Linked DNA regions of Homo sapiens: region 1 is linked to region 2. The links come from fine-mapping of genetic effects on gene expression. Tissue or cell type: whole blood. Region 2 holds a variant in brackets; the other region holds the start of a gene. All regions are shown on one strand. Distances are between the middles of the regions. Region 1 holds the start of KCTD7 (potassium channel tetramerization domain containing 7). Region 2 has its middle 55 kb from the start of KCTD7.

Region 1 (2,910 bases), 56 kb before region 2:
ATACCACATGCTCCTGGATCTGGCACTACCTTAGTCCCTGCCTCCTAGAAGCCATCTTCGGTGTCCAGTAATGCTTCACCTTCCCTCCTCTTTATTTTTTATTTGTAGAGATGGAGTCTGTGTTGCCCAAGCTGGTCCCAGACTCCTGGCCTCAAACCATCCTCCTGCCTTGACCTCCCAAAGTGCTGGGATTACAAGTGTAAGCCACCACACCTGGCATCGTTTCCCTTCTCTTGCTTTTTTTGTTTTTGTTTGTTTGTAGGTACGGTCTTACTCTATCACACCCAGGCTGGAGTACAGTGGCACAATTACAGCTCACTGCAGCCTCAACCTCCAGGGCTCAAGCAATCCTCCCAACTCACCTTCCTGAGCACCTGGGACTACAGGCACACACCACCAAGCCTGGCTAATTTTCATTTTTGTAGAGGCAGGGTCTCACTGTTGCCCTGACTAGTCTCTAACTGCTGGGATCAAGCAATCCTCCCACCTCAGCATCCCAAACTGCTGAGATTACAGATGTGAGCCACCATGCCTGGTATCTTCTCCCGTCTCTTGAGTGTCATTTCAGGTGTTGACATGATAGTATCACACACATTAAGTAAGACCCGTGGAAGCCCCTGTGCACCAGAGCACAGCAGCCTGTGAGTGAAAGCCATGGGATGCCAGGTGACCGTGCCTACATCTATGAACTGGCCTGCCCCTTATGTGCAGACAGCTCCTTGCCTTGTTCCTTAGGTAGCTGGAGACTAGGTGTGGGCAACCACTACAGCATCCTGTTGGATTCTCTAGAAGACATCTTTTTCTTTTCTTTTTTTTATTCATCCAACCCAAAATGCCTTTGTTTTTCCAGTCGTAGTAGGGACGGGGCCTCGCTATGTTGCCCAGGCTGGCCTCCAACTCCTGCCCTCAAGCGATCCTCCCTCCCAATGTGTTGGGATTACAGGCTCGAGCTACGGTGCCTGGTCAGACACACCATCAGCTCTCGGGGCTCCAGGGTCCCCCTCCCACGGCCCACCCTCCCTCCTGTCTTCGGTAAAAGTGGGACATGGCGATGGGAGTAAATCACCCCAGTGACTACTGGGCGGAGGGTGTAGGGGGTGGGGAAGCACACCTAGTGGGTGTAATTGACAGGGGTTGAAGGTGGGTGGGTAGGGGTGCAGGTGGGCGGGGGAGTTGCAGGTGGGCGGGGGAGGGGCGCAAGTCCGCGGGCCCCGCCCCCAACCCCGGCCCCGCCCACCCGCCGAGGACCGCTATGCCCCGCGCCCGCTTCTCCCCCGCGCCCCTCCCCACGCCCCGCGGCCCGCCGCCCGCCCGGGTACCTCCTGTGGCAGCAGGGGCAGCGCGTGCCCCGCCTGCGTGGCCGTCGGCGTGGCCGGCTCCAGAAAGTCGTCTTCGGCGTCAGAGCTGGACATGGCACCGTCCTGACGACGGCTGTCTGGCTCCCGCCCCGTGACTACCACCATCCCTCTGGCTCTGGGCAGTGGGCGCGGCTTCGGGCGGGCGGAGGCGGCGGCCCCGGGCACTCCCTACCGCCGAGCAGCGCCTGGCATGACGCGGCCGGCTGCGGGCTGGCCGGAGGGGGGCGAGAGGCAGTGCGCAGGCGGGAGGGCGGTGGCTCCCTCAACGCCGACCCGCTCGCGCCCAGCTGGGGCCTGACCCGACCGCCTCCCGCTACTGGCCGACGCCGCGCTGGTTCCGCCCTGATTGGCAGGAAGCTCGCCCAGTCGAAGAGCAGGCAGCGCCAGCGGCCGGCGCCTGAGTGGTCCCTGGGTTGGGGGGGGGGGGGGGGGGCGGCCTGCGAGCCTGCCGTGCACTGATTGGTCCTCTGGCCAGCGGGCGCGCCCTCTCCGAGAGACCCGGCGGTGGTGCGCCGCTACGCTCTCATAACTGGGCGTCGGAGTCTGCCGTGAAGAGGGTTCTCACCCGCGTCAGGGTAGACGCCTTATCCCTTCACACAGGGGGTCACGACTTACTCGTGTGTCTGGCCCCAGAGCAGCGGGTCCTTGTCTCCTCAATGGAAGGCCTGAGCAGCCTTTCCTGGAGGATGTGGCGGGAGGAGGGCTGAGGTGGCTGCGGACACGCCACCGCGGCTGGCCCCGCCCCGAGCCGCAGGGCACCGCCCGGGTGTCCAGTTCTTCCTCACTCGCTCGCGCAGAAATCCGAACGAGAAAACCCAAAATAGGAGCGCTTGAGTTCAATGAATAATGACAGTGACTCCCCACCGTGACCGTTTTTCCACCGGGACACACAGATGGAGACAGGCCCTTCCCCAAGATGCTCCCGGCTCCCTGGGAGGCGGAGTCCAGCCCTAGAGGCTCTATCAGCGCAGGGAGTCTCCTGGGGGTCAAGGTTCTTAGCCCGTTCAAGCCATTTTCTCCTTTCTTTAAAAGACAAAGTCTCACTCTGTTACCCAGGCTGAAGTGCAGTGGCGCAATCATAGCTCATTGCAACCCCTGGGCTCAAGCAATCCTCCCGCCCCAGCCTCCCGAGTAGCTGGGACCACAGACGCGCACCACCACACTCAGCTGATTTTTTAAAATTTTGGCCGGGCGCAGTGGCTCACGCCTGTAATCCTGGCTCTTTGGTAAGCGATGCGGGTGGATCACCTGAGGTCAGGAAGTTGAGACCAGCCTGGCCAACATGGTGAAACCTCATCTCTACTAAAAATACAAAATTAGCCAGGCATGGTGGCACACCTGCAATCCCAGCTACTAGGGAGGCTGAGGCAGGAGAATCGCTTGAACCCAGGAGATGGAGATTGCAGTGAGGCGAGATCACGGCCACTATACTCCAACCTGGGCAACAAGAGCGAAACTCCGTCTCAAAAAAGAAAAAAAAATTTTTTTTTTTTTTTTTTTTTAAGAAATGGGGTCTTGTCATGTTGCCCAGGCTGGTCTCAAACTCCTTGCC
Region 2 (2,910 bases):
ATCCGGCTGCCTTGGCCTCCCAGTGTGCTGGGATTACAGGCGTGAGCTACTGTACCCCGCCTGTGTTTGGGAATTATTACAGATGGTTCACATGCAGCTAATCCAAACCCAAATTTATTGCTTTTATTTATTATTCTCCGCATTCTGAACATTTTCCTCCTAACCCTTCTCCTGAGTCAATTAATGGCATCACTATTTACCAAGTTAGCTAAAAAACCTTGGTTTCATTCTTGATTTCTCTTTCATCTCCTATGCTGCCTACAACTTGACCAAGTTCTGTTTCTTCCAACTCAGAAAAGTCTTGAATTTTACCTTTTGTACTCCTATTTTCCAGGTGCTTATTTTCTTTTACTTAAACCTTTATAATATACTCTTACTTCTTGTTCCTGTCTCTAGTTTCTCTACCCTTCAAGTTGTTCACACAGCTACCTGCATGATCTTTCTAAAGTACATACAACGATCTGACAACGATAACTTCTTGGATTTACAGTCTTTCTTGCTTCCCCACCACATGATGAAATCCAGAATAGTGGGCTCAGCAATCAAGATTCCCTACCCTCTGGAGCCTTCCTGTGTATCCAGCATCACAGTTCATCACACGCCCAGTGCTCTGGCTACATTCAGCTTGTTGTGAAGCAAACCACAGGCTTGCACATTTGTAGTTCCTTCTTCCTGGAATGTCCTTTCACTTAGAATCCTAGTCAGCCTTATTACTCAGACGTGGTGGTGTGCACCTATAGTCTCAATAACTTGGAAGGCTGAGGGATGAAAATTGCTTGAACTCGGGAGGCAGAGGTTGTAGTGAGCTGAAATCGTACTATTGCACCCCAGCCTGGGTGATGGAGTGACACTCTGTCTCAATAAAAAACAACAAAAAAAAGGATCCTATTTATCCTTTAAGACCCCACCCAAACATCACCGTTGTAAAGCCTTATCAGCTCCCCCCAGCAGATTGCGTTGTTCTTTCCTGTGTTCTCACAGCACTCAACTTTTACTCTCTGATGTAGCAGCTGTCCCATTCTGTAGCAGTTGTTTACTTACCTTTTCGTCTGTTCCAGCCTTGAGCTTGTTAGGGAAAAGGACTAGACTTTATTTATTTCACTGAGCTTGTTGGGGAAAAGGACTAGACTTGATTTCTTTCATGTAACCTAGAGCAGTTGCTGAATGAGCATGAGAGGATCCCATTTGAAATCTGTAGTGCATGAAGAGCCGTCCATCCTGTAGCTATGTGAGACCTCAGACTGATTTGGCATATTTAGTCTCTAGGTCTAAAATCTTTAGATCCTCCTGAATTAATGGAGTAATAACCTTCAGGTATAGAGAAATCTTGGAGAATATCTAGATCATTCTAATCCTCTCTTGAATTGCAGACTCCAGCGGGAGGAAGAAGAGGCCTTTGCCAGCAGTCAGAGCAGCCAAGGGGCCCAATCCCTCACATTCTCCAAGTTTGAAGGAAAGAAAACCAACAAGAAGACCCGCAAGGTTACCACAGTGAAGAAATCTTCAGTACGTCTTCCAGGGTCGGATCAAAGAAGGGTAATGTT[G/C]TGATACTCTTTTTTTTCTTCTCTGCCTGAGTGAGACACAGAGGAGATCCCCAATGCTCATAGGCTCAGCTTTGTAATTTCTGTCAACTTTTTGAGAACATCAGCTCAGATTTGACACTGAAATTGGGTTTGAGGGTCAGACAGTATATGAAACCAATACTCTCTTTGGTTGAAAGATATTGTGTTTTAGAGAAATTTGTTTACTTTATAGGAGGAATAAAGAGAATTGAAATAGGTAGTTTTGTTTATGAAATTCATCCCCATCCAAATGACTATCTCTTTGGATGATTTGGTTTTTGCGCCTTTTATTTGTGGATCCTGGTTTGTTCTGTAGTATCATACCCTCATTGTTCATAGCTTGTCAGAAATGGCAATTTCTAGCCTTGAAGGTCATCTGAGAGATTTTCTGCCTGAGAGCTTATTTGAGAGACAGCTTGTGTCATGAGGAATTGTATTGAGAACATATAGGAAAAGGCCCACATTGGGCTCCTGGAGGGATGAAAGTGAGCCATAGTAGCTATTTTCCAGTGCATGGATTTGTATGTAGGTGATCATATTCACTCGGCTTCTTAAAATGCCATATAACCATCAAGAGGATTGTCACTTAAGTCACAGTTGTTCTACCATTGAGCAGACAACCCAGTTGAAGTGGCCCAATATGAAGCAAGAAAGAATCTCTGTTGTTAGGCCTTGGTCTCTGAAAATTTATGTTGGTACTCGGTCTTTGAAAATTTATGTTGAGTTATGCAGTGAATGTGAAATAATGAGGGAGACTGGGAACCAACACTGATGCTGTCAGAAAACCTGTTCTCTGGGAGCCCCCTCACTTGCTCCCCAGTTCTTACCCTGGGGTAATTGTAATGAGATCTTCTCCCCTGGAGGCAGGGGAATGAATAATAAGACAGTTTTTATCCCTTAAGATCCTTGCCAGTCCTCTAGGTTTTGTGACTTTTGCTGTTTTCTTTTGGTTTATTGTAAGGAAATAAAAGGAAATATTGCATATAACCAAAAACATACTTCTCTTTAAGACATGGATACCAGGTGTGGTGGCTTACACCTATAATCTCAGCACTTTGGGAGGCCACGACGGGTGGATCACCTGAGCTCCGGAGTTTGAGACCAGCCAGGGCAACATGGTGAAACCCCGTTTCTACAAAAAATAAAAAAATTATCCAGGCACAGTGGCATGTGCCTGTAGTCTCAGCCTGGGTGACAGAGCAAGACCCTGTCTCAAAATTAAAAAAAACAAAAAAAATAATAAAATAAAAAGAAAAGAAAAAAGAAAGATTGATTAGCTTTAAGTAATAAATCTTTGTTCACATGATTAATTTGAAGTTGTTTCTTGGTTGGCTGCCAGTTGTAGCTA

The links.
Region 1: KCTD7 starts here. The variant in region 2 is fine-mapped to the expression of KCTD7 in whole blood (TOPMed, PIP above 0.99).

Annotation. Positions count from the first base shown.
Region 1 is chr7:66,627,618-66,630,527 of GRCh38, reverse strand. KCTD7 (potassium channel tetramerization domain containing 7) reads right to left here and starts at 1,647. Exons shown (of 4, transcript NM_153033.5): 1 at 1,320-1,647. The coding sequence starts at 1,463. RefSeq lists silencers at 1,287-1,856, 2,867-2,910.
Region 2 is chr7:66,572,011-66,574,920 of GRCh38, reverse strand. It overlaps the pseudogene RABGEF1P1. Among named protein-coding and RNA genes, the nearest start is that of KCTD7, 55 kb to the left of the region's middle. The variant G/C (reference allele first, on the strand shown) is at 1,545.